Linked DNA regions of Homo sapiens: region 2 is linked to region 1. Evidence: fine-mapped expression QTL. Tissue or cell type: cerebellum. Region 1 holds a variant in brackets; the other region holds the start of a gene. All regions are shown on one strand. Distances are from middle to middle. Region 1 overlaps LOC107984878 (a long non-coding RNA gene). Region 2 holds the start of NUDT7 (nudix hydrolase 7).

What was found.
Region 2: it holds the start of NUDT7, and the variant in region 1 is fine-mapped to the expression of NUDT7 in cerebellum (GTEx, PIP 0.92).

The regions. Positions count from the first base shown.
Region 1 is chr16:77,747,076-77,750,096 of GRCh38, forward strand. All of the region lies in intron 5 of LOC107984878 (a long non-coding RNA gene), which reads right to left. Among named protein-coding and RNA genes, the nearest start is that of NUDT7, 26 kb to the left of the region's middle. The variant G/C (reference allele first, on the strand shown) is at 1,567.
Region 2 is chr16:77,720,770-77,723,527 of GRCh38, forward strand. NUDT7 (nudix hydrolase 7) reads left to right here and starts at 1,745. Exons shown (of 4, transcript NM_001105663.3): 1 at 1,745-1,848. The coding sequence starts at 1,814. RefSeq lists an enhancer at 1,583-1,877 and a silencer at 1,591-1,720.

The DNA of each region.
Region 1 (3,021 bases):
ACTACCCCTTACTTTATGTTAATAGCATGGACACCACTTCATTGCATTCCTTTGCATATCTGTATAATACATGTGTATCTCTGTGTTTATTCCAGACCTAACCCTGGAAGGGACAGATCCATGCACCATAAGACCCCTCACTCTGAGTTCCCCTATCCTCAAATGAATGGACCAAGGATCAATGGCAAACCCATAGGTGGCCCCTAATTCAGTGGCTTATGACTTGTATGATCTACTTAAATACCGGATCTAAAGTCCATTCGATTTTCAAAAAACTTTGAGCAATGCCAGAAGGTAACATATGCTTGGGAAATATTTTGGCCCATGTACATACTGATGAGTGAGCCCAAGAAGTCAGAGTTTAAAGTTAGTTGGCCAATAATGGTAGAAATATGTCTTTGCTCTAAGCAGTAGTTGTCGTGTCAGGGATTTCATCAGATACAACTGGAAGAAGAATATTTCCTGAAGCAATTTATCCTTCTTAAAGATCTCATACTCAAGCCCATAAATTTTAATTTTATAGGTGTAGACTTGGTTTAATATTTCCTCAACTATAACTTTCCTCAATTTTCATTTTAAATCTTCAAGCCCTTACTCTCTACTTCATCATGGATGTCAATGACATCTCTGTGTCAATTTTTTTCTCTTTTTCACTTATCATTTATGTGAAACTTGAAGTTTTCCTTCCGATTATTTTCTTCTCCTCACTTTCTTCACGTGTTTCTTCACTCTAGTCTCATTTCATCTTCTTCCATCAGCCTTCAGTTTCAGCTATATTTCACGGATCCCAAACAGCATTCTGAAAATTTGCCTACGTTATTTTTTCTGACTATAAATCTGTATGGTCTAATATCAGGCTAAATGATAAACTGAAGATAGTGGGAACATTTTGCTAGAACTCTCAACCTGTTACAAACATATATTAACCCATCTTAGCCCCCTGTAGTGAATTGAATAGTGGTCCCGAAAAGATATGTCCAAATCCTAACTCCAATGCCTGTGAATGTGAGCTTATTTGGAAATAAGATCTTTGCAGAGGTAGTTAAGTTAAAGACCTTGAAATGAGATCATCCTAGATTTACGGTAATCCCTAAATCCAATGACTGGTGTCTTTATAAATAAAAAAAGAGGGAAATTTGAGACACACAGTTGCAAGAGACACAGGGAAGAAGCCATGTGAAGACAGAGGCAGAGATTAGAGTTATGTTGCCGCGAGCCAAGGAACACCAGGAGCCACCGGAAGCTGGAAGAGGAAAGGAAGGGTCCTCCCCACAGCCTTTGGAGGGAGGGTGATGCTGCCAACGCCTTGATTTCAGATTTCTGGCCTTCAGAACCGTGAGATAACAAATTTCGGTTGTTTTAAGCTACCAAGTTTGTGGCAAATTGTTAGGACAGCCCTAGGAAACTACACAGCCCCCTTCTGAAACATCTCTTCATTTTGAGAAATAGCTCTGCCCTCTGTCTTGGGATTACCATGGAAACAGGACATTGCTGACCTCCCAGCATAAACTCAGTTAATCAGATTTAGTCCCTCAGTAATTCCCTTGGGATTAGTACCAAGCAACA[G/C]CAGAGTCTGTCTGCCTGCCCTCCGGAAGAGAGCATATGTGGGTGTTTGTGTTCCACCATTTGCCCTGGGAAGCAGAGAAAGCTTGTCTGCAACAAGAGAGGAGAACAAAGTCAATGACCAGAATGGAAGAGCAATGAAAGTCAGTCGTGTGTTGTGAAGGCATTAGAATCCCTGGATGTTTGTTCTTGAGACCCGGATGTTTCCATGGTTTCCATGAAATGCTCCCACCCTTCGTAGTTAAATTCCCTAACGTGCTTGAGCAAGCTTAGAAAGAGTTCTATAACTTTCACTGGAAAATGTCCTAACATATCACAAACACACGTCTTTATATCCTTCTCTTTTCTCTTTTCTCACACCCTTTTACACTATGGGGACCTTAGGTTCTATTCTTTCTTAACTTAGAATGGACCTATCCACATGTAGAGTCTTCTGGAAGTGCAATATGGTATGGTAGGAAAGACTGAAGACAGAAAACCCAGTCTCCTCTCATCACTAGCTATATGACCCATTGGACAGATTAAGCCCATATGCTAATTGCAAGAAAAATTAGGAAAATAGGCATCTGACATTTTCTCCTCCACTGTGAGAGGCAGACCCGGCTAACAAGGAAGAGGATGATGGGAAACTCATTGTCTGCCACATCATGTTTATTATATTTTATTTTATAAATAGAAACAAGGTCCTGCTATGTTGCAAAGGCTGGTCTCAAACTCCTGGCTCCAAGCAATCCTCCCACCTGAGCCTTCCAAAGTGCTAGTATTACAAGCATAAGCCGCCATGCCTGGCCTGCCTGCCACATATAGAAGTAAAACTGCTCTGACAGTTAAGTATGTGAGGGGGACAGATTACTGCTTGCTTGGCTCTTCTCACCTCTCCCCCACCACAGTTGCCCCCATGACTCCTCTATAGACTGCCTTTAGGTTCTATAAGGAACAAAGAGGGACAATGGAGACCCAAGTCAACTCACTGATGTCTTTGATAACATATGTGTCCTTTGCACCTCTTCTTTGTTGGTCCAGTAAACAGAAGCTAAAGCAAATGTATCAAAGTCTGAATCAACATTCCTGGAGAAGCCTTTGGGTCTGGGCTAGCCCATGAGATAACTGTGAAGCTGTCACAAGACACCCCTGGCTACAGAGCACCTGTAATGTGGCTAGTCCAAATTGAGATGCTGTAGGAGTCAAATACACACTGGATTTCAAAGACTTACTATTGGCTACATGGTGAAATGATAATGTTTTAGAGATGTTGGGTTAAATATAGGGTGAAAATTAATTTATCCTGTTTCTTAGTACTTTTTTGAATGTGGCTACTAGAAAATTTAAATTTACATACATGGCTTACAGTATATTTCTACTGGACAGAGTGGCTCTAGATGACTCATGTGTGGCCAGGACACTAGGACACTGGAGAAGTAATGATCACCCCATGTACAGATACAGTCTGTGTCCTAC
Region 2 (2,758 bases), 26 kb before region 1:
ACATTTTCACAGGTCCCTAAAATTACTGTGTGTGTCCTGTGCCTGTAAGGGAGAAGTCAGCCCTACACTGACCCCTGGATTCTCAGCTCGCACCAGGCTCCCTCACACACACTGTTCTCCAGCCCCTTTCTGCTGTCTTTGCACAAACTTTGCCCTCTTCCTTGAACACTCTCCCTTGCCTTTTTCCTCATTTATGTCCTCTATCCCGCACAGAGCATCAGAATCCCCTTACAGCACAGATCACTGGGCCTGACACCTGGCTTCTGATTCAGCAGTTGTGACATGGGCCCCAAAGTCCACCTTTTCTTTTCTTTTCTTTTCTTTTCGTCTTTTTTCTTTTCTTTTCTTTTCTCTTTTCTTTCTTTCCTTTCTTTCTTTCTTGGTTTTTGTTGTTGTTGTTGTTGTTGTTTTGTTTTGTTTTGTTTTTGAGACAGAGTTTCGCTTTTTTTTGCCCAGGCTGGAGTGCAATGGCGCGATCTCGGCCCACTGCAAACTCCGCCTCCCAGGTTCAAGCGATTCTCCTGCCTCAGCCTCCTAGTAGCTGAGATTACAGGCGCCTGCCACTGGCTAATTTTTGTTTTTTTAGTAGAGATGGGGTTTCACCATGTTGGCCAAGCTGGTCTCAAACTCCTGACCTTAGGTGATCCACCCGACTTGGCCTCCCAAAGTGCTGGGATTACAGGTGTGAGCCACAGCGCCTGGCCCAGAGTCCACATTTTTAACAGGACCAAAGTGATCCTGATTCTGCTGGTCTGAGGACCACACTTTGAGAACTACTGCTTTCAAGATGAGCTGCACTTCTATTTCCTCTACCAAGCCTCTTCTGTCTCCTAATTGGGTCACATTTCTCCTTCACACGCTCTAGAAGGACCAAAGGCCACTGCTTTATCAGTGTGATTTTTTTTTTTTTTTTTTTTTGCATTAAAAACTTCTTATCTTCTTCTTCTTATTTTTGAGACGGTCTACCTCTGTCAGGCTGGAGTGCAGTGGTGCTATCACGGCTCACTGCAGCTTCGACCTCCTGGGCTCAAGCGATCCTCCCACCTCAGCCTCTTGAGTAGCTGGGACCACAGGTGTGTGCCACCACGCCTGGCTAATTTTTTATTTTTATTTTGTAGAGATGGGGTTTCGCCATGTTGCCCAGGCTGGGCTCGAACTCCTGGATTCAAGTGATCCTCCCCTCTTGGCCTCCCAAAGTGTTGGAATTACAAGCATATGCCACTGCATCCAGCCCTGTGTGATTAATTTATGTTTCTACCATTTGACTGTGAGCTCCACGTGTCTTTTCGCTAGCTGTGGGATCTGCACCCAGTGCATACAGGTGGTCGGTGAACAGGTGCTGACAGCAGTTCCAAAAAGTTGAATGAATCACCTTAACCTTCCAGCAACAGCGAATGCGAGTGTAAAATATTATCACCTCACCAACACTGTATTTTTTTTTTTTTTAACTCTTCCAGCTCTAAATTCCACAACTCCTCCTATACCTCTTGCTTCCATAGAAGCCCAAGGAGCCCGGCAGAAACTGCTTTGAGCAACCAGGAACACCCGGCCCTAAGTCCCGCCCCGCGCCTCTCCCCACCTCAAGTCCCGCCTCTGGCTATAAGCCCCGCCCCGCCCCGATCCCGGCCTCCGATCCCAGATCTCGCACCGCCCCGCCCCCTGTCTCCGCCCCAGACACCACCCCGCCTCGTGCTCTAAGCCCCGCCCCTCTCTCTGGCTTTAGGCCGCTCCCAAGCCCAGAGCTGCTCTGCGCAAGCGCGACCGACCGAGCAGCTCCGAGGAGTCCGCCCGGAAACAAACATTCCCCAGGGCAATGTCACGACTTGGTCTTCCCGAGGAGCCAGTCAGGTAAAGGCTTTCCGGGCCCTGGCACCCCGAGCTTGGTCAGGCCCGGCCTTGATCGTAGCGGAGGCCACCGGGGCCTTTTGGCCGGGACTGATTTTGCAGCTCCCGCCAGTCCACCTGCGAGCGCCGGATGGGGGAGCACTCGCCTCCAGCAACCCGCAGGGTCCCCGAACCTTTGCACTGCTCTGGCCAGGAACAGAGCCGGCTTAAGCCAGTATGGTTTACATACACGCTGCTCCCCTTCCCAGCCGGCTTGGCTGTTCTGCAATCCGCGTCTCCAGAGTTGGACCCCAGGACCCCCGACAGTGGCACAGACCCGCAGCAGGCAGCCCCGGATTCAAGTCCCCCGGTGGCTACTTTCAGTTGTGACCTTGGGTCTGTCAGTTTCGTAAACTCTCTGAGCCTGGAGGTGACCCTGTGATCACTTGCCGGGCTGTTGTGAGGATAAAATGAGAAACGTCAAAATTGAGACCATGCTCAGAACGGGGTGGCTGCTACTGCTGTTGATACCTTGGTGATTATTCCAGCGGCCAGCCCCTAAAGTGGACAGATAACGTTTTTGCAGCCTTTTACTTTGGCTGGTTTGTCTGGTCAGTTCTGTGGTTTCCGGGTGGTTAAAAGCCACCAGCCCACAGTTTCCTTTTCTGGAGGCTGGCCTGCGTGCATCCAGATGCACTGTGCAATCCCTGTGCCAGCATTCACTGATTTTTTTCAGGCCATTTGGTCTTTGAAATACACTGCCGTTACCCAACCACATCTGGTGAGCACCCTGCCACCTAGAAAGAGGCAAAAAATAGCAAATACCTCCTGCAAACAACTGCTTATCTAATGATGGGGAGATTTATGACAGTGGTTACCATTCCCTGAGCACCAGCTGTGTGCCAGCCACAGTATATGAACTGCATCATTTAAT